Homo sapiens: one gene and its partners. The protein of the gene in region 3 interacts with the protein of the main gene of each other region in a pairwise test. Each region holds a gene or a part of one and is shown on either strand. Other genes may lie near its edges. The genes, in order: PRAM1, TBC1D22B, FXR1 and ESCO2.

What was found.
Region 1: the proteins of FXR1 (region 3) and PRAM1 interact in binary tests that used the Homo sapiens proteins (3 or more experiments, as listed by UniProt).
Region 2: the proteins of FXR1 (region 3) and TBC1D22B interact in binary tests that used the Homo sapiens proteins (3 or more experiments, as listed by UniProt).
Region 4: the proteins of FXR1 (region 3) and ESCO2 interact in binary tests that used the Homo sapiens proteins (3 or more experiments, as listed by UniProt).

Annotation. Positions count from the first base shown.
Region 1 is NC_000019.10:8,492,641-8,499,692, reverse strand, and holds part of PRAM1 (PML-RARA-regulated adapter molecule 1), read left to right. Parts: coding exon 1-1,317; intron 1,318-1,403; coding exon 1,404-1,470; intron 1,471-1,852; coding exon 1,853-1,929; intron 1,930-7,052. UniProt on the Homo sapiens protein: May be involved in myeloid differentiation. May be involved in integrin signaling in neutrophils. Binds to PtdIns(4)P.
Region 2 is NC_000006.12:37,330,772-37,333,470, reverse strand, and holds the end of TBC1D22B (TBC1 domain family member 22B), read right to left. Parts: intron 2,428-2,699; coding exon 2,299-2,427; 3' UTR 501-2,298; downstream 1-500. UniProt on the Homo sapiens protein: May act as a GTPase-activating protein for Rab family protein(s).
Region 3 is NC_000003.12:180,943,626-180,950,677, reverse strand, and holds part of FXR1 (RNA-binding protein FXR1), read right to left. Parts: intron 2,814-7,052; coding exon 2,742-2,813; intron 2,332-2,741; coding exon 2,183-2,331; intron 1,958-2,182; coding exon 1,864-1,957; intron 1,452-1,863; coding exon 1,335-1,451; intron 1-1,334. UniProt on the Homo sapiens protein: mRNA-binding protein that acts as a regulator of mRNAs translation and/or stability, and which is required for various processes, such as neurogenesis, muscle development and spermatogenesis.
Region 4 is NC_000008.11:27,770,717-27,777,574, reverse strand, and holds the start of ESCO2 (N-acetyltransferase ESCO2), read right to left. Parts: upstream 3,022-6,858; 5' UTR 2,968-3,021; intron 2,077-2,967; 5' UTR 2,061-2,076; coding exon 2,008-2,060; intron 1,214-2,007; coding exon 406-1,213; intron 1-405. Other genes in the region: CCDC25 (coiled-coil domain-containing protein 25), read left to right, coding at 5,035-5,062. UniProt on the Homo sapiens protein: Acetyltransferase required for the establishment of sister chromatid cohesion. Couples the processes of cohesion and DNA replication to ensure that only sister chromatids become paired together.

The DNA of each region.
Region 1 (7,052 bases), on a different chromosome or scaffold from region 3:
CTGAGTTTGGTAAACTGAAGAAGTTCTCCCAGCCTGAGCTAAGCGAGCACCCCAAGAAGGCCCCGCTGCCTGAGTTTGGTGCAGTGTCCTTGAAGCCCCCGCCGCCTGAGGTCACTGACCTCCCCAAGAAGCCCCCGCCGCCTGAGGTCACTGACCTCCCCAAGAAGCCCCCGCCGCCTGAGGTCACTGACCTCCCCAAGAAGCCCCCGCCGCCTGAGGTCACTGACCTCCCCAAGAAGCCGTCCAAACTGGAGTTGAGTGACCTCTCCAAGAAGTTCCCACAGCTGGGGGCCACTCCGTTTCCAAGGAAGCCCCTGCAGCCTGAGGTCGGTGAGGCCCCTTTGAAGGCCTCGCTGCCGGAGCCTGGTGCGCCGGCCCGGAAACCCCTGCAGCCCGACGAACTCAGTCACCCCGCCAGACCCCCCTCCGAACCCAAATCCGGCGCATTCCCCAGGAAGCTCTGGCAACCCGAGGCCGGTGAGGCTACCCCGAGGTCCCCGCAGCCTGAGTTGAGTACCTTTCCCAAGAAGCCTGCGCAGCCTGAGTTCAACGTGTACCCCAAAAAGCCTCCGCAGCCTCAGGTCGGTGGCCTCCCTAAGAAGTCCGTGCCGCAGCCTGAGTTCAGCGAGGCCGCTCAGACTCCCCTCTGGAAGCCTCAGTCCAGCGAGCCGAAGCGCGACTCCAGCGCCTTTCCCAAAAAGGCCTCCCAGCCTCCGCTGAGTGACTTTCCCAAGAAGCCTCCGCAGCCTGAGCTTGGGGACCTCACCAGGACCTCCTCAGAGCCCGAAGTCAGCGTGCTTCCCAAGAGGCCGCGGCCGGCCGAATTCAAAGCGCTCTCCAAGAAGCCCCCGCAGCCCGAGCTGGGCGGCCTCCCCAGGACCTCCTCAGAGCCCGAGTTCAACTCACTCCCCAGGAAGCTGCTGCAGCCGGAGCGCCGGGGGCCACCCCGCAAGTTCTCACAGCCTGAGCCCAGCGCTGTCCTCAAGAGACACCCGCAGCCTGAGTTCTTCGGTGATCTCCCTCGAAAGCCTCCACTCCCCAGCTCCGCTTCCGAGAGCTCACTGCCTGCGGCCGTGGCCGGCTTCAGCTCCCGGCACCCGCTCAGCCCTGGGTTTGGAGCGGCTGGGACACCCCGCTGGAGGTCAGGAGGCCTGGTTCACAGTGGAGGGGCCAGGCCAGGCCTCAGACCCAGCCATCCACCCCGGCGGAGGCCTCTGCCCCCTGCCAGCAGCCTGGGACACCCTCCAGCCAAGCCCCCGCTGCCCCCGGGGCCCGTGGATATGCAGAGCTTTCGGAGACCCTCTGCAGCATCCATAGGTGGGTGAGGGCGGGCGGCACCGGCAGGAGCGGGGGCTGAGGTCCCAGGCAGTGCCGGCTTCCCTGCCCTACTCTCTACCCCACAGATCTACGGAGGACCCGCTCGGCCGCTGGGCTCCACTTCCAGGACCGACAGCCTGAAGACATCCCGCAGTGAGTGTGGGGAGGAAGCGGAGGTGGGTGCGGATTGTGGGGCTCAAAGAGGCCTCATCTCGGCCTGGAGCTCCCAGAACTTCGGGAGGCTGAAGTGGGCGGATCTCCTGAAGTCAGGAGTTCGACAACAGCCTGGCCAACGTGGTGAAACCCCGTCTACTAAAAATACAAAAATTAGCCCGGTGTGGTGGGGGGCACCTGTAATCCCAGCTACTTGGGAGGCTGAGGCAGGAGAATCGCTTGAACCCGGGAGGTGGAGGCTGCAGTGAGCCCGAGATCATGCCCCTGCACCACTCCAGCCTGGGCAACAGAGAAAAACTCCGTCTCAAAAAAAAAAAAAAAAAAAAAAAAAGAAGAGGCCTCATCTCAGGTATCCCCGCAGGGTCCCAGATGAGATCTACGAGCTGTATGACGATGTGGAACCCAGAGATGACTCCAGCCCCAGCCCCAAGGGCAGAGGTTTGTTGGTGGCCTGCCCGAGTCCCTGCAAAACATTCGGGGCAAGGCCATTTTCTGCCATGCTCCTGGTGTAAGAGCAAGTAACATTTTAGGACCTGCTGGCTCCTGCTGGGTGGAACTACATAAGGGGAGCCCAGAGGCGAAGGACCAGTGAGAAGGCTGTTGTAGGCAGAGGTGTGGCCCAGGTTGGCAGCAGGAGATGTGGGAGCAGTGGGTGAATTCAGTAATCAAAAGCAGGCATCAGGCCGGGTGCAGTGGCTCATGCCTGTAATCCCAGAGCTTTGGGAGCCCGAGGCAGGAGGATCGTTTGAGCCAATCCCAGGGCTTTGTGAGGCCAAGACAGGAGGATCCCGTAAGCCCAAGATTCCAGACCAGTCTGGGCCACAGAGCGAGACCTCATCTCTACAAAAAAACTTAAAAATCAGCCAGGTGTGACAAGCATCTGTAGTCCCAGCTATTTGGGATGCTGAGACAAGAGGATTGCTTGAGTCCAGGAGGTCGAGACTGCAGACTGCAGTGAGGCTGTGACTCCACCACTGTACTCCAGCCTGGGCAGCAAACACCCTGTCTCAAAAAAAAAAAAAAAAAAAGCAGGATTTGGTGGTATATAAAGCAGGGAAGTTTCAAGCCTAGCACCCAAGGGCATGACAGAGCCGCCCCTGGGTTGACGACAAGATGTTAGGTTCCATTCATTCATCCATCCATCCATCCATCCATTCATTTATTTATTTATTTTTTGAGATGGAGTCTCGCTCTGTCACCCAGGCTGTAGTGCAGTGGAGCAATCTCAGCTCACTGCAAGCTCCGCCTCCCGGGTTCATGCCATTCTCCTGCCTCAGCCTCCCCAGTAGCTGGGACTACAGGCACCCACCACCGCGCCCAGCTAATTTTTTTGTATTTTTAGTAGAGATGGGGTTTCACCGTGGTCTCGATCTCCTGACCTCGTGATCCACCTGCCTTGGCCTCCCAAAGTGCTGGGATTACAGGCGTGAGCCACCACGCCTGACCCTTATTTATTTATGTATTCGTTTTTTTGTTTGAGATGGAGGCTCGCTCTGTTGCCCAGACTGGAGTGCAGTGCCGTGATCTTGGCTAACTGCAACCTCTGCCTTCCGTGTTCAAGCGATTCTCCTGTCCCACCCTCTGGAGTAGCTGGGATTACAGGCACGTGCCACCAAGCCCAGCTACTTTTTGTATTTTTAGTAGATATGGGGTTTCACCATGTTGGCTAGGCTGGTCTCAAGCTCCTGACCTCAAACGATCCACCCACCTTAGCCTCCACAAGTGCTGGGATTACAGTCATGAGCCACCGCGCCCGGCCTTATATTTTTATTTTTTATTTTTTTGGAGACACAGTCTCGCTCTGTTATCGCCCAGGCTGGAGTGTAGTGGTGCCATCTCAGCTCACTGCAACCTCTGCCTCTTGGATTCAAGCGATTCTCCTGCCTCAGCCTCCCAAGTAGCTGGGATTACAGGCGCCCACCACCATGCCTAGTTAATTTTTGTATTTTTAGTAGAGCTGGGGTTTCACTACATTGGCCAGGCTGGCCTTGAACTCCTGACCTCGTGATCCGCCCACCTCAGCCTACCAAAGTGCTGAGATTTCAGGCGTGAGCCACCACGCCCAGCCTGATTTACTTAGACCTGTTGTGTTCAAGGTAGCTGAGGGGATGTCCAGGCAGAACTTGGGCCTGAAACTCAGGGGGAGGTGTGGCCTGCAGGCAGGTGTGGCAGTGGCAGGGGAGGGAGGCTGCCAAAGGTTTCTTAGAAGTTTGTGCTGGGTGAATAGGGAGCAGGCCCGCACCTCCTGCCCAGCTCCACAGTTAATGCCTTCATGAAAACACAAGCAGCTTCCAGGCAAGCACCTTGCCTGCCTGTCCCTAAATCTGTACCCTCCACTCCCTGCATGTCCCTAAATCTGTCCTTAAATCCGTACCCTCCACTCCAAAGTTAATGCCTTCATGAAAACACAAGCAGCTTCCAGGGAAGCACCTTGCCTGCCTGTCCCTAAATCTGTACGCTCCACTCCCTGCATGTCCCTAAATCTGTCCTTAAATCCGTCCTTAAATCCGTACCCTCCACTCCAAAGTTAATGCCTTCATGAAAACACAAGCAGCTTCCAGGCAAGCACCTTGCCTGCCTGTCCCTAAATCCGTACCCTCCACTCCCAAATCCCCACAGGGCAGTAAGGCAATGCACCCCCATTTTACAGATGCACAAGGCTGGCCCGGCGTGGCAGCTCACACCTGTCATCCCAGCAGTTTGGGAGGTCCGGTGGGCGGATCACTTGAGGTCAGGAGTTCCAGACCAGCCTGGCCCGCATGGCAAAAACCCATCTCTACTAAAAATAAAAAAACTAGCTGGGGCCGGGCGTGGTGGCTCACGCCTGTAATCCCAGCACTTTGGGAGGCCGAGGCGGGTGGATCACCTGAGGTCAGGAGTTCGAGACCAGCCTGAACAACATGGAGAAACCCCATCTCTACTAAAAATACAAAAATTCGCCAGGTGTGGTGGTGCGTGCCTGTAGTCCCAGCTACTAGAGAAGCTGAGGCAGGAGAATCGCGTGAACCTGGGAAGGAAGGGTTGCAGTGAGCCAAGATCACGCCATTGGACTCCAGCTTGGGCGACAGAGTGAGACTCAATCTCAAAAAAAAAAATGAGTCGGGCATGGTGGCATGCACCTGTCATCCCAGCTATTCGGAAGGCTGAGGTGGGAGAATTCCTTGAACCCGGGAGGTGGAGGTTGCAGTGAGCTGACATCGCGCCGCTGCACTCCAGCCTGGGTGACAGAGTGAGACTCTGTGTCTGTCTCAGTTGAAAAAAAAAAAAAAGGCCAGGCGCAGTGGCTCACGCCTGTAATCCCAGCACTTTGGGAGGCCAAGGCGGGTGGATTGCCTGATGTCAAGAGTTCAAGACCAGCCTGGCCAACATAGTGAAAACCTGTCTCTACTAAAAATACAAAAAATTAGCTGGGTGTGGTAGCAGGCGCCTGTAATCCCAGCTACTTGGGAGGCTGAGGCAGGAGAATCGCTTGAACCTGGGAGGCAGGGGTTGCAGTAAGCTGAGATCCTGCCATTGCACTCCAGCCTGGGTGACAGAGTGAGACTCCATCTCAAAAAAAAAAAAAGAAAAAAAAATAGGTACGCAAGGTTGAGGCTCTGGGATGGGGCTTGCCCTGGCTTGCACAGCTGGTCCACGAGCTGGATCTGTGGCAGGGCTTTCAGCGGGGGCCAGAGCTTGAGCTTCTAAGGTGCTCCTGCTCTCGCTGACAGCCTCAGAGGGCCTGGGGCAGAGAGGCCCCCTCTGCTTCTCCTGGGCTTTCTCCCTGAGCTTCTTGCAACACCTCCCTGTGAGCACACAGCTTCCTGGTGGGGCCCCTTCTGCTTCCGCTCTAGGGGAGGCTCTGTGGCTTGGGTCTGGGGGCCACCGTTGGGGATGCGGATGGCCAGGAGTGGGGCTGCTGAGCGCCTGGGCTAGTGACAGCCTGCCTCCAACCACTCCCAGAAGCCCTGCTGGAATCCCCCACCTCTTCCGAGGCTAGGAGCATCTGCCTCTCCTCAAACTTCATACAGTCCCCACCCTTGGCCCATTGTTCCTGTCACCAAATAACCTTCTCCCCCTTCCTTGCCAGTCATTTGAGGTTCTGATAGGAAAAAAGAAAAAAGGGGCCGGGCGCGGTGGCTCATGCCTAAAATCCCAGTTCTTTGGGAGGTGGAGGCAGGCGGATCAGTTGAGGTTGGGAGTTCGAGACCAGCCTGGCCAACATGGTGAAACCCCGTCTCTACTAAAAATACAAAAATTAGTTGGACATGGTGTTGCACACCTGTAGTCCCAGCTTCTGGGGAGGCTGAGGTGGGAGGATCGCTTGAATCCAGGAGATGGAGGCTGCAATGAGCCGAGATTGCACCTCTGCACTCCAGCCTGGGCAACAGAACGAGACCCTGTCTCAAGAAAAAAAGAAAAAAAAAAAGGTCCCACTTCCCTGGATCTCCCGCTTCTCAGGAGTGGCGTGGGCTTCTCACTGTGGGTGCAGCTTCTCAAAGGCAGCTTAGGTCTCTTGGGGCCAGGACTCTGGACTCCCCTTTCCCACTGTCTGCCTTACTTGGAGCAGTGGCAGCTCCACTGCAGAGGTTCCTGGAAGGCAGGGGGCTCCTCTGCAGGTGGGGAGAGCCCAGCCTTTCCCAGGGATCTGAGCTGGCCATGCGGGGAAGGCGGGCAGAGGCCTGCTCTGGGTCAGCTGTGGATGAACCAGGGCTGCCTGCATGGCGGTGCCAAGAGGTGCTCTAATGTGGCGGGTTTGCAGGGACCCTGGAGTGCCAAGGTCAGGTTCGCTCCTGGTGGAGTGACTGCTCACGGCCAGGGAAGCCTCTGAGAGGCAGGAGCAGCTGGAGGGGCTGTGTGTTCCAGGTGAGACTGTGGATGGCCATGCCTGGTATCTGGCGGGCACGATTCAGGTGCTGCTCCTTGGGCTGCTTGGAGGGACTACAGGCCTGAAATGTCCGGCGGGATACTTTGAGCCATTCGGAAAGGACATGCTGGGGCTCTGGGTTCTGGATCTTTCACTCACCAGGGTTCCTGGGGCTCCCACCTGAAGCCAATTCCTTGGCCAGCAGGGCTCTGACTTGGGAGCCTGGTCATTTGCCAGGAAGTGGCACAGGGAGACTGGCACCATGGGAGACCCCTCAGTCCAGAGTCTCATCATCAGTCACCAGTCCAGGACGCTTACCCTAGCAGCATCTTTTAAAAATTATTTTTATTTACTATTTTGAGACAGGGTCCTGGTCTGTCGCCCAGGCTGGAGTGCAGCGGCGCCATCTTGACTCACTGCAACCTCCAGCTCCCAGGTTCCGGCGATTCTCCTGCCTCAGCCTCCTGAGTAGCTGGCATTATGGGCGCCCACCACCACACCCGTCTAATTTTTGTATTTTTAGTAGAGACAGGGTTTCACCATGTTGGCCAGGCTGCTGTCAAACTCCTGACCTCAAGTGATCTGCCCGACTTGGCCTCCCAAAGTGCTGGGATGACAGGCATGAGCCACCATGCCTGGCCATGATATTTTACTGTCAACTATCATTGCCCTCCTGTGCAATGGAACACCCAATTTCTTCTTCCTAACTGTAACT
Region 2 (2,699 bases), on a different chromosome or scaffold from region 3:
CCTACATGGCGGCCATCTTAGTTCTTTCTACTCTGGTGGAAACACACTGAACAGGCAAGCCAGGAGGACACCGGGTCTCTGGTTCTGACTCTGATGCTGTCTTCCTTGGCCTTGGCTTGGATTTTCCTCTGCGAATGAGGGGGTTAAACTAGATATCTCCAAGTTTTCATCCAGCACTGAAATTCTAGTCTGTTTTCTACCCTCTATCAGATAACATACTTCTTTTAGATGAATGAAATAATCCATGTAAAGTGCTTCTCAAAGTGGTTGGCAAGTTAACTCTTTTTAGTAGTTTCATTTACCAAGTTACTCATTTTTGTAGTTTCCACAGTACCTTTCATAGATGGATGTCGGGTAAGTGTTTGCTGGTTGATCCTCTGCTGATGCCCTGCTCACCTCACAGAAGGCCTGACCACACACCTACTAGTATCAGCAAGAAAAACTCAAAAAGAGGAGACTCTTTAGGTTCCATGGACACATACAGGAGAAAAACCAGCAGATGGAGGAGGAAATACACCATTTATTTACAATTCTTTTCACTTTATCCACAATTTCCCATACAAACATAAAAACTAAAAAAATAAAACCACCACTTGGGAACACAAGTGTCTTTCTTTAATTAGTCCGGTTGAGGGAGGGTCTCAAGCCCTCTCACTCTATGAAGGAGACCACTGAGGCACACCGAAGGGGAAAAGGAAGAGGGTTGGGAAGAATGCCTGAGAAACAGCTCCAGATGAGAAACCTAACTCACACCGATGTGGTGGGGCCTCACTGGCAAAGAGACTTGAGGGTGTTACCCACCAGGGACACTGCTCGGCTTCCCAGGAGGATGACAGCTGCTGGCCCCCATCCCCCCACCCTCCACTACCAAATACCAAAACTCAAACAGGGGTCACACATCTCATGAGCTGTGTGGGGAGTGAAGGTGACAGTAAGGGATATGGAGTGCTGCTCTCTGAGAAGAGCCCCAAACCCGAGGGACACACAAGAAGCCCCTTTCCTTGGCACTGAGTCTTCAGTCACAGCTTCTGTCCGAATACAATGCTGAACTTGAAAACGTAAAAACAAAAGCCCTCCCCAGATTCCGGGGAAGGTGGGGATAAAAACACATAGAGAGGGCTTGCCCGCCTCTGCAGTCCCTTCCTGGGGAGGCTGCTAGGAGCAAAGGGCAGATGCTCCAGGAAAGTCTGGGGGTTGGGGGGCGGGGTGAAGAAAGGGGCGAGGAGGACTCTGAGACACTGATGCTTGGGATGGCTCCAGCTGCTCAGCTACTCACTTCAGCAGCCTCCCGTTCTACCCCTCACAGCAGGACACCCAGAACCAACCTGGAGGTGCTGAAGCCACCTTCCTGGCAACTTCCTCTGTGCTAGTGACCTAGATTGCTTTCACATGTTGATGCACATTATAAATATAAAATCATATCTGCTACAAAGAGGACATATATTTGTACATCTTTACCCATATACATAATAACACAATTTACACATAATATCTTGGAGTGGGTCATCATGGAAAAGGGGTCTGGAGAGCCCCTTCTGCCTCCCCTGCCCCAATCCCTCTTCAAGGGATGCTTATACACTTGGTCACTGGGGCCCTTCCCAACTAGTTTGATGGGGCTCGTCTGGACACAGAAATTCAGACATGTGACTAAATGCTGATGGGCATGTATACACATTCACACCCACACACACATGCAGACACCTGGTGAGAAAAGGAAAAATAAAATTCCTAGCCCTTGGGTGTAGGCCTCTTTCCAGAGTTACAAGCATCAGTGCCTCCTCCATCTAGAATAATGGTTTTAAAAAGCTACCCCTCACTGGCTCAGACTGGGGCAGAAGGGGAACGGCTAGGAAACCAGGAAGAGGGAAGAGGGGCCAGGAGTCTTTCGAAAATATAAGGCGTTTTTGACCTGTGATCAAATCAAACTATGTTCACAAAAAAAAAAAAGCAACGGTTATCAGTTGGGGCCTGTCCTTGTAGGGACAATGTGAGGTGAGACCCTGAGCCTTCCCCTTCTTTGTCCAGTTTCTTTTAAAGGGGCAGACAACCCTGTACCACCTTTTCTGTCCTCTCCCAGAACTGGGCCCATCCACGCGGCATGGAATACTGACAGTGGTCCAAGTGACACATCCAGAGACATGGAGTGGTGGATGCCAGAAAGTTAAGACCTGGGCGGTGGGTGTGAGCTTTGTACAACAGGAGTGGTTCCTGGCCGGGGTCCACGGCTCGCACAGTGGCCACAGTGATCAGACTGCCATCAGAGATGAAGGCAGTCTGGGTCCCCGGAGGAGACAGCACCTATCGGCGGTAGTGATTTGGGGCATCGGCAAACATGTACTTGAGTCTGTATGCCTCGGCGAGAAGCAGCCCAATTTCTTCGTTGCCCCAGTGTATTGTAGGTAGGTTCTGTAGCAGCATGAGGAGACCCTGGAATGCAAGAAAGGACTTTTATATCATACCAGACCGTAGACCATCAGACAAGTGAACCCATTCTTAGAGACCAAGGCCTAGAATGGGGCCCCTTCCTCCTGGCTCACACATCTCAAAGAGTCCAGCCTCCTTCCTCCCAAACAGTACACAGCTTTCAGTCCTAGTTCACCTCAGGAGGTCTTGAAAGCCTCTGCTGATTCTCTAGTCCACTAACACCTGTCTCTTTAAAAACATAAAAAACATAAATAGGGAATGACAACAATAAAGAT
Region 3 (7,052 bases):
ATAGAATGATGGTTGTCAGGGGCTGTGGAAAGGGGAAAATGAGCAGCTGTCTAAAGGGTATAGATTTGCAGTTTTACAAGATGAGATGTACTGAAGATTGATCAATAATGTAAACATACTTAATACTAAGTGTACACTTAAAAATGGTTAAGATGCTAAGTTTCATATGTACTTTACCACAGTATAAAGAAAAACCCAAGAAGAAAAAACCACCGAAAACCCACATAAATTTTTTTAAAAAGGCCAAAACTCAAGTTTCTTAAGAAACAAAGGAAACTCATCTAATGTCATAAAATGAATGGGGAAAAGAAACTGTTTTATTCATCTATTTTATTAGTCTAAAACACTTTTCCAGATACAGGCAGATTTGTTCACATATCCCTTGTTCAGAATTTTTAAATTAATGAGAACATTTCCAAATTTGTCCTAAGGATAATAAACATATCTTAATTTCTCTGAGACATCACAGTGTGTGCATGCACATGTGTTCATCTAGATCTAGAAAGTGTGAGTGAGTGGGAAGAACAAGTATCCTACTAGTGTAGCAGGGAAGAACAGGACAAAACAGAGTACCTTAGGATAAGACAGAGATATAATGATAAGCTTAATATTTTAATACTACATGCCACATGATGCCTCACTCCTAGTCCTCCTCTCCTCTCACACAAGAGTTGTTACAGTGAACTAGTTACTGATGAAAGATATCATGACTGACAGATGACAAGGCAGTTAAAAAAATAAAAAGGTTAAATACAAAGTAAAGAACTAGCAATACAGTCTACTGAGTATCCCTAGTTTCTTAGCTCTTTGGCACCTGTCATCTAAGTCCTACCAACAAGTCAACAGGCATTTCGCAAAGGAAAGGCTATGTTTGATAAAAGGTAAAATGGAAAAGCAATTGTTCTACGGACACAACTCCAAACAGTCACGAAACAGAGGTCCTGGGCTGCCTTCGTTTGAAGCAAGGAACTTGAAAAATATAAAACTAAATGGGGGCCAGGTTCGGTGGCTCATGCCTGTAATCCCAGCACTTTGAGAGGCTGAGGCGGGCAATCACTTGAGCCCAGGAGCTCGAGACCAGCCTGGCCAACATGGCAAAACCCCACCTCTACTAAAATACAAAAATTAGCTGGGCTTGGTGGGGCACACCTGCAATCCCAGCTACACGGAGGCTGAGGCAGGAGAACCGCTTGAATCCGGGAGGTGGAGGTTGCAGTAAGCCAAGATTGTGCCACTGCACTCTAGCCTGGGCAACAGAGCCAGAATCTGTCTCCAAAAAACAAACAAAAACTAAATGGGACACAGAAAACTCTTTTGTAAGTAAACCCACTTACTTCTAAATGCTTAGTGGCCTCTTCATTTCTGGACATAAGCATCAACTTCGTACGAATACTTCGCAAATGCATGTCACTTAAGATGTTTACTCTCTTCACAGTTGCTTCACTGGCAGACTATAAACAAACAAGCTAATTACTCAAAACTTTAATCATTCTTCCAAATAGCACAAACACCATCCCATCTTCTATGCAAAGCCTTCCTTGCTTCTCATCTACTACACTTCTTTCACCTAACACTCACTACTCTGAGTAATCACACTTTCCTTTCTGAATTCCTGTATTATTTAGATCTGCTATTCAGAATATGTTTGATTGGGGAAAAATCCGGAATCTCACACATTAAGAATTTTATGATGTTAAGAATGTAATTAACATTTTATAGCTGCAAACAAATTTTTCTCCCACACTATATTAATAAATTCACTATACACTAAGTTGATCTTAGCTTTTCTCTTCTGAAATATGTAATTATAAAATCTGTGCAATATCCATTAATAAGCTACCTTATAATATGGTACTATCTTACCAGTATCATTAGCTGTGTTGTTTCTGGATGGTAAAAAATTCTGCATGCTCCTACTGCTTTCTTAAAATCTTTATGTGCATTTTCATTAGCACACCTAGAGAGAAATCAATTTATGTGTAAGAACTCAATAACAGATTAAAGTCAGAGGAGAGTCACAATACAAAGTCAGTGTTTCATTTTGACAAGCCCCACTAAAACCTTTGTTCATTAAGATGATTTTCCATCAGAAGGTTTGATTGGGCATTAGGGAAAATGTTTTGTAGGACTGAAAAATCTTCTTAATTCACAGAACAATTCAATAGTATATAAAATTACTCACGCCTCTCTCAAATCCTCAGGAACATCCACTGTGCATTTAAAGAAGGTATTTTTTTTGACAGTTTTATTTTGATTGACAGGCCGAAGTCGTTCAAATGTGACTATTTCATTGTAAGTAGCGTCACAAGCAGCATATTCAATGACATAAAACTAAAAGACATCAAAATACTTTAAAAATCCCATCTGAACAAAAATAATGAAGTTTAAATGAAGTTCTAATTACCTTGCTCAGCTTAACCAACGGACCCTCCCCCATGTGGCATAAAATACTAAGCACAGCTTAGCTACATCAATCTGATTTGCCTAAACTAGATTATAGGTTCTTACAAGCATGAACCTTGGCGGTCCTTACATGCTTGAGGTGTACCTCTGGAGAGCAGCTTTGGTGTTTGCCAATACAGAACACAAACAGAAATTAATGCTAATGGAAATGTCTGATCAACTATTTCTCAGGTAGGCTTTTAGAAATAAAACTAACAGTTGAAATAAGATTTACAAAAACCAAGCACTGAGGTACTTCCTTAGAAACTAGTCACAAAGCAAGTGTGAAGAGTACTTACTTCTCCTTTCATCATCCGAACTTTAGCCAACCACCACCCACATGGCTCTTGGTCATTTGCTCTTGAATATACCTGAGAAGAAAAAAAAATGCCTATATCCATTCATCCCAAAAGATTTCAATGCTGTAAATGACTTTTTATTAATACCCAATCCCAATAAACTTAAGAATGAAAAATGCTATTTTATTTAAATTGGCATATTAAATGCAATTTAAAGAAAGTGATATGTAACTTAAATTTACTACTTAAAAATAAAACTACTTTTTTGGGCAATTTAGCTTCTTAGAAATTAATTCCATATTCATGAGGTTTACTAAACATAAGTATTATTTTAAAGAAATGCTCTTACAAAGGAGTTTTAAATAATGTAAAACACAGGTCTTCCTGTTTCTGTCAACATTGTTAATATTAAAAATTGTTCTCAGAAAGTGATTAACGTAATTTTTAAATTCCATCGAGGATATGACATTTAGATCCCGTGCTAAAGAACCTAAATCAAATGTACTAAAATTGTTTAACTGAACAAAAAAATTACACACATTCAGTCCATCTAGCAGAATACATTAAGTATCTTACAAAATTCCTATCCAGGCCGGACGCAGTGGCTCACACCTGTAATCCCAGCACTTTGGGAGGCCAAGGTGGGTGGATAACCTGAGGTCAGGAGTTCGAGACAAGGCTGACCAACACGGTAAACCCTGTCTCTACTAAAATATAAAAATTAGCCGGGCATGGTGGCAGGTGCCTGTAATCTCATCTACTCGGAGGGCTGAGGCAGGAGAATCATGTCCAGAGGGTGGAGGATGCAGTGAGCAGAGATCACACCATTGCACTCCAGCCTAGGCACCTAGAGCAAAACTCCATCTCAAAAAAAACAAAATAAAAACTATCCACAAAAAAACAAGTCATATTCTTTATATCTATAAATATCAGTTTTATTAACGTAATAGGTCACAGAAGCTTTCACTTGGGATTAGAGTTATTTCTTATGACACAGCAGAGCTTCTTTAACGTATTATATTTTCAGTATAGAGAAAGGTAGAAAAGGGGGGCTGAGAAGAAACTAAAAACCAATAAAAACCAAGATTGACTGTCCTTGCAGAGATCATCAGGGAAACCTATCAGTGGCTGTTAACAGCCATCTGGGAGATAAACACAAACAACTAAAAACAAAGACTTTTAGAAAGCCTGAAGCTTCTATCAGGATGATTTGAGAGTAATCTTGGAAGTGGTAGGAATACTGGAACTGGAAATGAATAAACCAAAACCTACTAATGAACTTTATCGTATACCATGATTAGAAAAAAGCTATGAGAAAAAGCAGGAAGTCCAATATACCAATCAGGGTCCGTTAAACTCAATTTTAGCTTTTCCATTTCTTTTATAAACAGATCTAACTATTCAAAGGGATCAATATCTCATGACTTATATTCTTCCTTACGACATATTCCAAAAAACAAGAAAGTTTACTTCTCTAAGACTAGAACAGAACTCACCCTTATTCTGTAATTATTATATGTATCCACTGGGCCCTTTTATAAATGTAAGGTAGAATCTAGTGATCTTATTTTTCCTATATCTTGAAACACTTTACAATTTCATCAACATTCATCAGTTATTCTCAGCTATGCTTTAAATAAAGACTAAAATGGAACAGAGGAATGATGGCATCACCTAGAGGATACAACAGTGAAATAAACTGTTAATGTTCATACAGTTTCCTTACTGCATAGCCTGAGGTATCACATCTCTTTCAAAACAGTTCAAAAAGACCAAAGACACCATCCTTGTAGTCTGCTTTTAGCTACCGTTGACCAGTTGATAATTATGAATTTTTTTCACTCATAATTGCGAAGAGAAGAAAAATTTACAGAGGAAGGCCTTTCTAATTATTAGAGATATCAGACAACAGATGCAAAGAGTACTGATAAATGTGAAATTATCTTACAAAGCAAAACCTCAGACTATGAAGTCTGAGATGGTGACATCTTAGATGAATGTTCTCAATGTATTTCTCAAACGATGTATTTCTCAAACGATGTATTTCTCAAACATTGTTCTCAAACAATGTATTTCTAAGGAGAAGAGGGAAAGATGATGTGTATTCTCATCCAGTTAATGACTCAACTGAGACTCCATCATGCAAAATCCTCCAACAAGAACCCAGATCATCCTGGTTTGCTAAAAGGGTATATGACAGTATTCTTCCATCTTTTAAGATGTTTGTGGTCAGGCACGGTGGCTTACACCTATAATCCCAAAACTTTGGGGAGCCAAAGCAGGTCGACTGCTTGAGAGCTCAGGAGTTCAAGACCACCCTGGACAACATGATGAAACCCCATCTCTATCAAAAATACAAAAGAAATTAGCCAGGTGTCGTAGCGTGCACCTGTGGTGCCACCTACATGGAAGGCTAGGGTGGAAGGATTGCTGGAGCCTGGGAAGTTGAGACTGCAGTGAGCCAAGATTGTACCACTACACTCAACCCTGGGTGACAGAACGAGACCCTGTCCAGGGGGAAAAAAAAGGTAAAATAAAAATTGAAGATAAAATTTTAAGAAATGTTTGTGTGCCAAAATGTACTTCGTAAGTGGAAATGTCAAAAGCAGATGTGTATACAAAGGTAACTCGAAAAAGAAAGATAATGAAATGCAAAAATATTCAATAGATTAGTCAATCCAACTGACTAAATGTGCTAAAATTACAGCACAGAGATGGCTATCCCTTCTTCAATAGAATGAGATGTCATTAAAAGTTCCAAAGTATTCAAGGACTGCATTCTGATGATCCAACTGTAAGAATAACCAGAATAAGCTAGAATTTATTAGAGATATATTTTAAATCTGCTATCAATATTTATAAGATTGGTATGTTCTAGGTTCATGTATAACAGTGAGCAGTTAGTTACATTTAGAGAACTGCATTCATTGTAGATACATATATCATCAAAACCTGGAAAATATGAAAAAGTTAGATTTGCTATGTTTAAACCCTCACTAAAATGTCTAATAAGGCCATGCGTGGTGGGGCTCACGCCCGTAATCCGAGTACTCTGGGAGGCTGAGGTGGGCAGATCACTTTGGCTCCAGAGTTCGAGACCAGCCTGGACAACATGGTGAAACACCATCACTATGCAAAATACAAAAGTTAGCCAGGCATGGTGGCATGTGCCTGTAATCTCAGCTACTTGGGGGCCTGGGGTAGGGTGGAAGGATCTCTTGAGCCCAGGAAGTCAAGGCTGCAGTGAGTTGTGTTTGCTTCACTATACTCCAGCATGGAGTCAATAATGGCCTTTAAAAAAGTCTAATAATGGGGGGCACAGTGGCTCATGCCTGTAATCCCAGCACTTTTGGAGGCTGAGGCAGGAGGACTGCTTGAGCCCAGGAGTTTGAGACCAACCTGGACAACACAGGAAGATTTCGTCTCTATAAAAAAAATTTTTTTTTAATTAGCCAGGTGTGGTTGGTGCATGCCTCTAGTCCCAGCTACTTGGGAGGCTGAGGAAGGAGGATCACTTGAGACTGGGAGGTCAAGGCTGCAGTGAGCCATGATCATGCCACTATACTCTAAACTGGGTGACAGAGCGAGACCCTGTCTCAAAAAAAAAAAAGGTCCAATAACGACCTTACTACCCTTTCATTCTTTCTGCTACAAAATTATTTGGTAAACGATCAGTGATGACTGTTTTCCCAAGTATACTGAGGGTTACAAAAAGAATATTCTAGGCCGGGCGCGGTGGCTCACGCCTGTAATCCCAGCACTTTGGGAGGCCGAGGTGGGTGGATCACCTGAGGTCAGGAGTTCGAGACCAGCCTCAACATGGAGAAACCCTGTCTCTACTAAAAATACAAAATTAGCCAGGCGTGGTGGTGCATGCCTGTAATCCCAGCTACTCGGGAGGCTGAGGTAGGAGAATTGCTTGAACCTGGGAGGCGGAGGCTGCGGTGAGCTGAGATCGCGCCATTGCCCTCCAGCCTAGGCAACAAGAGCGAAACTGCATCTCAAAAAAAAAAAGAATATCCTAACAACCAAAAGAAGGTGCCCATTCGAGTAACTATCTCAGAGAGGCAGTTCGAATATCTCTTGTTAATGTGGGTAAATCAAGCCTCATTTGCTGAAAATGTTATGTCTTAAAACTACCTAACCCCCTTATTCTATTTTCACCAAAGCATAATCATTCATGAATCTGGCTTTCTAAATAAACCATCTCAACTGCCTGGAGGCTTTTCTCACTGAACGATGAAATGCTGAACTCCATTTTAAACTTAATATCCACTTCTGTAAGCTTCATAACTTCACCCCTGAAAGACC
Region 4 (6,858 bases), on a different chromosome or scaffold from region 3:
TAATCCCAGCAATTTGGGAGGGTGAGGCAGGTGGATCACTATAGCCCAGCAGTGCGAGACCAGCCTGGGCAACATGGTGAAACCCCAGCCTCTACAAAAAATGCAAGAATTAGCCGGGTGAGGTGGTGTGCATCTATAGTACCAGCTACTTGGGAGGCTGAGGTGGGATTGCTTGAGCCTAGGAGGTTGAGGCTGTAGTGAGCAGTGTGCCACTGCACTACAGCCTGGGTCATAAAGAAAGACCCTGTCTTAAAATAAATAAATAAATAAACTCCTTACAGTAACTAAACACTATGCTATCTGGCTTTATAAAAGCAGTCCAGAAAATAAAATTTTATTCAACTATGTCATTTATACTGAAGTTTTGTTATACAGCCATTTTTAAAGTGATATATTTAGCTTTACCTTTATTAATTTCTCTTTATTTTTACTGCTTGCACTCAGTAGTCCAATTTTCAATTTCTCTTCTAGGACCAAGCACTTTGGCACTTGCCTTGTCGCAAAAGTTTTTTTTTCACTGACAGTCTCTACATCAGAATCTTCAATGACTTCTGATTTACTCTTTTGGGTGCGTCCCAGTGACGGCTCATTTTCCAGGGACGATTTTCTAAGAGAAGATTTTTTTCTAACAAAAAATGCTGCTCCACCCTGGAGTGTAACTTGTGGTTTTATTTTTTGGCTCAGAACCCGAGGAGCATTGGAATTATTTTCAGCTGAATGACAATTATTTTCCTTCTCCACAATTGGCTTATAGATCACTCGATTTTGCTTGGAATTTCTAGAATTCCTTGATACAGGCTTGATGTGTCTATACTTTGGTTGATACTTAGCAGTTAAACTCTTCTGTGGTTTTTTGTTGTTCTTCTTGGAGCAGACTGGTTTTCCTTGCATTTTTTCTGTCACAATGGGAAAAGATTTATCTTCATCATTAGTTTTTAGACAAGTAGATCTACTCTCTTTTATCAGCTTTCTCTCCAGTGGATTGAGGTACCACTTATTTTGGTTGTAAAAAGATACAGTGGAGAGCGCAGATTTAAATGGTGAGCCTTGATTTGCTGATGGCAGTCTATTTATTTCAGTTGTTTTGAGCGCACTTAAAACAAAATGCTCTTGTTGAGAGCAATGCAGGTTTTCTTCATTTTTATCACTGTTTTGATAAAAACAGTGCTTTTTATTAGGTGATGGAAACAGATTTTCAGTGAAGTGTAAAAGGCTATAAAAAGAAACAAAGTCCATTGATAAGATTATTTTGCGTCAAAATTTACATAAATCTACTGCTAAGTAAGCTCTACTTGTAGGTCATATTAAAAACAATACATGTACCCCCCATACACACAATTTTCTATTAGTTTAACAGTAGGATTCTCAAATTCTGTCTTTATCAAATAAAACATTCAAATATCTTCCCAAAGAGTTCATGAAAACAAATACTATATACAAAGAAGCTATGATAGACATATATGCATGTATGTTTTAAAATCGATTTCTATGTGTTGGCCATATATAAATTATAGCTCATATATTTTGCTCTATTGTTTACAAGCCCCCTATAATAACTGTCTGTAATGAACTGACCCCCTGGGGCTTTTCCTGGGTAGAGTAATTAATATCTGAGTACACAGTCTTTCTAGAATTGTTTCCAGACAAGCATCTACTGTATGCAAAACACTGTAAAATATTATAGGGGAACAGAAAGGAAAAAGGTAATAGCTGATTTGGTATATTTCCTAGCTATAGAAAACAGCTTTCTTCAATGTGCTGCTTCTATGTCAAAAGAAAAAAACAAAAACTAAAAAACAGCTTTGATTCCCTTGAAAAGGACTAAATAATTCATTATGAAAACTTAATGTATTTCCAAGCTAGAATTAGAATATAGGTTATCAGGTTATCACTGTAGCCACAAGGAGTAGGCTAGTGGAAGAACGAAAATTTTAGAAAATAGGAGAGAACAAGAGAGACAAGAAGGTGGATTTTTCTAAGAGTTTCTATTCACAGGCTGAGATTCACCTGTCACACTTCAAAGAATCCTGCTTCCTCTTCCTTGGAGTAAGAGCTGCCATTTTCTTTATTGAATTCCTAAAAGAAATGACAATAACCACATTCATCAAAATATTAAAAATCGCTTTATCAAAATTATACCCCCTTTAATTAGTCTATTTCACACCAAGTTAAAACCCTATTTTCTGGGAGGTCTTCCTCGACATTGCTCTCCTTCCACCCCTCCAAGGGTTACACGCGCTTGTTCTGCTTCCATGGCACCCTGTATTTCCCTAATAGTCCATTTAAGACATTTTCTTGTTTCCCCATCTCAACAGCCTTCAATGAAGGCAGAGACCGTCTGTAACTTTTCATCAGAGCCCAGCAAGAAAACGGGTGAAGCACAGTCCTCTGCCATTTTCCTAGCTGATGAGCCCGGAGCAAGCCGTTTGCTTCCCTTTTTATAAAAATCTCTTGAAGTCGTAAGGCTGCTGAAAACAAATGCTAGAATGCACGAGCAGGCGGCTACGTGGCTCGTCAGAATTCATTTCCTTCCCCTTCCCTGGGATCAGGGAAATTCCCCCCAAAGCAGCACACAAGCGTTATTTCAAAGCTATTAATGAATGAACAAACTGAAAGGCCAGGGTCTCTGGGAATTCAGGTCGAGCTGCGGCTTAAGGGGGGACCCCTCTGGGGCTAAGCGAGGAAAGGTAGGAGAGGAAAGCGTCCCGACCCTGAACCCGGTCAGGGAAACAAACAAACAAACAAACCCTAAACCCAAAACAAGGAAACGCCGGCGTCGGGAAGAGGGAAACCCGGCGCCTGTGAGCGCGGAGAACGAGTCAGTGGCTTCTTCGGTCTCGGGCCTGCGGACCTGCCGAGCGCCGAGCAAAAGCTCTTTCCCCGTGACATTCGCCCCCACGTTCCACAGGGTCTCCCGCTCGCCTCAGCCTTCCACAGCCCCCCGCCTCGGCCTACTCCAGAGGTTACCTGCGCCTCAGAGCCCGGCGAGCTCTCCTCAGCCTAGCCAGCCGCTCCGTGAGCGTCTTCAAATAATCGCGCGCCAGGCTAGGAGGAAGCCGCTGCGTTCCGATTGGCCACGGCTCAGCGCTTCCAGGGGCTGGCTCGGTGATTGGTGGAGCACCAGCCCTTGCCCCGCCCACCCTGGTGGCTGTTTCCAAGATTCTCGCGCCCTGGTGAGGTGAAAAATCTCTGAGGGAAACCACGCCACCCACAATCCCCTGCAGCAACGCCGGACTCCGTTCCCGGGGCCTTGTTTAGGTGCATTCTGGGAATTGTAGTTCTCGGTCCAGTTGAAGTTGAGATACATTCTGGGGTCACGGGGTAAGAAATTTTTGTAAAATGGCCTCTCCAGCCTGGCGACAGAGCAAGACTCCGTCTCAAAAATAAATAAATAAATAAATAAATAAAGGCCTCTCCAAGATTCTCGATGCACTTATTTTTCACATTTGAAGCTTCATTGTCAGTTTCACTTTTTTTATTAGTAACTTTAGGTTTCTATTTATTTTTCAAATTAAAATATAAAACTTAACACCTGCTATGTGCCAGGCATTCTTAGATGCTTTACATGTTTTGTTTCATTTACTTCTTACCACAATCTGTAAGGCATTAATATCTATTGCCATTCCCATTTTACAAATAATACAACGGAGAACCCAAAACAATTGCTATTTACAGAACAGAGCTAAATTCTTACTTTGGAAAACCAGAAAGTTCCTAAAACGGTTATTGTTAGCTATTGTTACTATCTTTGTGTCACCAGCTCCTGGTACAGTGTTTCTGGCACATTTTTAGTTTCAAATAAGTTTAGAGTTTTATGTTTATTTTTTCAAATTTAATTTTCACAAATTTGTATGTCATCCTTGAGCAGGGGCCATGTTAAAGTTCTCTGTATCATTCCAATTTTAGTATACATGCTGTCAAAGCAAGCATGTAAATAAATTTCGTTAAGTGACGCCCTCAATTTCATAGAATGAAGTCAGTGACAGTGATGTAAGAGTGTCAGTTTAAAAGGAAAAGGCTGAGGCAAAAAAAAAAAGAATGTAGAGTTTGCTTGAGTTAAAGCGGGGACAGCTGCCCAGAAGATTCCAACCCCCCTCCCCCCACCGCCCTCCACCAGCAGGCTTGGATATGAGCTCTGTCTGGCCTTTGCTACAAGCAGGTTTTTAAAGACGAAGAAGGGGGGCAGGAAGTGGGCTGATACACAACTGTCAAGCATTCTCATTGATGTATAGAAACTACAAGCATCAGTGATTGGCTAGACATTGTTAAACTATAGGGTGTGGGTCATGTCATAGTGTCTTGTGTGGCAGTGTTAGGTTAGTAGGTAGCTACCTGTGGCAGAAGCAGGTAGTTTCAGTAGATGAATACATAGCTCAAGGGGGTGGTAGAACATGATGGGGTCTTATCTTAATGCCTCTCCAGACCTAGTAATTTAAAGGGACTCACATTCCTCAGATAAAAGTGCTTTCTCAAGAGAAATAATCAGGGCAAAGCCAAGTGCTGTAGGAGCTTTACATGAATATGATTATTCCTACTTTATAGCAGGAGGACCTCTGAGGTTCAGAGGTTTGGGATGGCAGGCCTTCGATTTAAGCCAGAACAAAGTCCAATCCCCAAGAGGCATATTGTCCTGGTGAGTATCAGAAACAACTCGTTTGTGTGCTATGTTCTAAACCCTTGGCGCCCATTAACTTATTTAACCCTAAAAAATATCCTGTGAGTTAGCTGCTCTAGTATCATCTTCATTTCGCTGCTGAGGAAAGTGAAGCACAGACAGGTTAACTAACGTGCCCAAGATGCCCAGCCTCTTTCCCTTAACCCACAAATCACTGAACCAAACTCCTTGCCACTACACTTCGCCTCGCCAGGATTAAAAATGGCGCCCACGGCCGGCGTTATGACGCGCCCCGACGTCCGCCGGAAGTGCACGGAGGAGTTCCGGGGGCCAGGCGGCCGCCGCGAGTCTGGTATCCTGAGCTTCGTGAGTTGAGCGCTGCTGCTCCGCGGTGGAGTCACCGCACCGCTCCCGGGATCATGGTGTTCTACTTCACCAGCAGCAGCGGTGAGTGGGCGCCACGTCCTCCTGGACCCTGCTGGACAGCGGGCTCCGAAGCCGGGACCCGCAGTCCGCCGCTGCGCCTGACCCTCGCTCTAAAATGCCTTCTGGATGCGAGTGCCTCTTCCCGCGGCCTCTCGGTCCCCCAGCACATCCGTCCCTCCCACGGCTGCAGGATTTCCCCCGGCGTCCCCTCGTCATGGCGTGGGGGGCGCGGAGGGGCGATGCCACTGCTATGTTTGTATCGGGGAGTTCTCGTCCCCTAATCGGAAAGACGTCCCGTCACTCCCTGGGATTGGGCAGAGCCTGTGGGCTCCTCCACACACCTTATCCCAAGTCTTCTTCCCACCTTCCATCTGCGGCCTTTGTTCTGGCTGAACCCTTGTAATTATCCCCTGTGAGAAAGGAGACACCTGCTAACAACTTTTTCTTAAGGGAAGCGCGACTTACCCTTTCAGGAAGGGGTTGTAGGGTCTGGGATGCAACAGAAAACAATAAAAAGACCCTGGGATGTCCACCCAGCCACTCTCCGGGCAGTTGATGTCCCAGATCTCAGAAGTGACCTATGGTAATGCTTCTGACTTATCTTTGACAGATAAGGAAAGGGTGCCCTTCGTTCCCAGGAAATGCAGTGTCCCGACTTGGTTTCGTTCTGTTCCTGTTATTCCCCTTTCCTAAAATCAACCCCCAGCTAATTCCCTTAAGACAGTTTTGGCCCATCTTTTCCAAGATGCCTTTCCTGATGCTAGCTCCTACCCCAAGATTGCTTAGCTATTCCTTTCCTGGGACCCACTTAACGTTCCAAGTATGCCTTTGGCATTGCACTTATCACGTGGTATTAAATGGTGTCTGCTTGAGCTAGAGTGTAAGTCCCTTGAGGGCGTGGACAGGATCTCTTTACAGTAGTCCCTACTTGTCCTGTATTTCGCTTTCCGTGGTCACATCATCACAAGAAGAAAAGGAGTGAGTACAGTACAATAAGGTTTTGAGAGAGAGAGAGAGCAGAGTCACCTAACTTTTATTACAGTACGTTGTTATAATCGTTCTATTTTATTATTAGTTATTGTCAATAATCTCTTACTCCACCGAACTGATACATTAACTTTATCATAGGTATACATATATAGGGAATACCAGTAGCCATGCGTCCCTTAATGACAAGAATACATTCTGAGAAATGCTCCATTAGGCGGTTTCATTGTTGTAGCAACACGGTAGAGTATACTTAAACCTGTGGTATAGCCTACCACAAATGTAGGCTGTACAGTATACCGTTGCTCCTAGGGTACAAACTTGTACAGCACGTTGCTGTACTGAATGGCTGTAGGCAATGGTAACGCAATGGTGTTTGTGTATTTAAACGGGTCTCAACGTAGAAAAAGTGAGTTGCACCACGCTGTTATGATGGCTACCAGGTCATCAGGCAATAGTGATCAGAATTTTTCAGCTTCGTTATAATGTTATGGGACCACCATAGTATGTGTGGTTTGTTGCTGACCAAAGCATCATTATGTGGCAAGTCCCTTTATATATGGAATTCAGTGTTGTCCTCGGTTTCAGGCATCTGCTGGAGATCTTGGAAGACATCCCCCACAGATAAGGGGGGACTACTGTACTTGTTTCCCTAACGTAGTGACTGGTTAGTAGTTCTCAATAAATGCTTGTTGAATAAATGAATGCCATTTTTTTACTTACTTATAGCACTTTCTATTCTATTGCTACTCTATATGCTTGTTAAAGGTGAGTTTTTTGTTTTTGTTTTTGTTTTTTTTTTTTTTGGAGACGGAGTTTTGCTCTTGTTG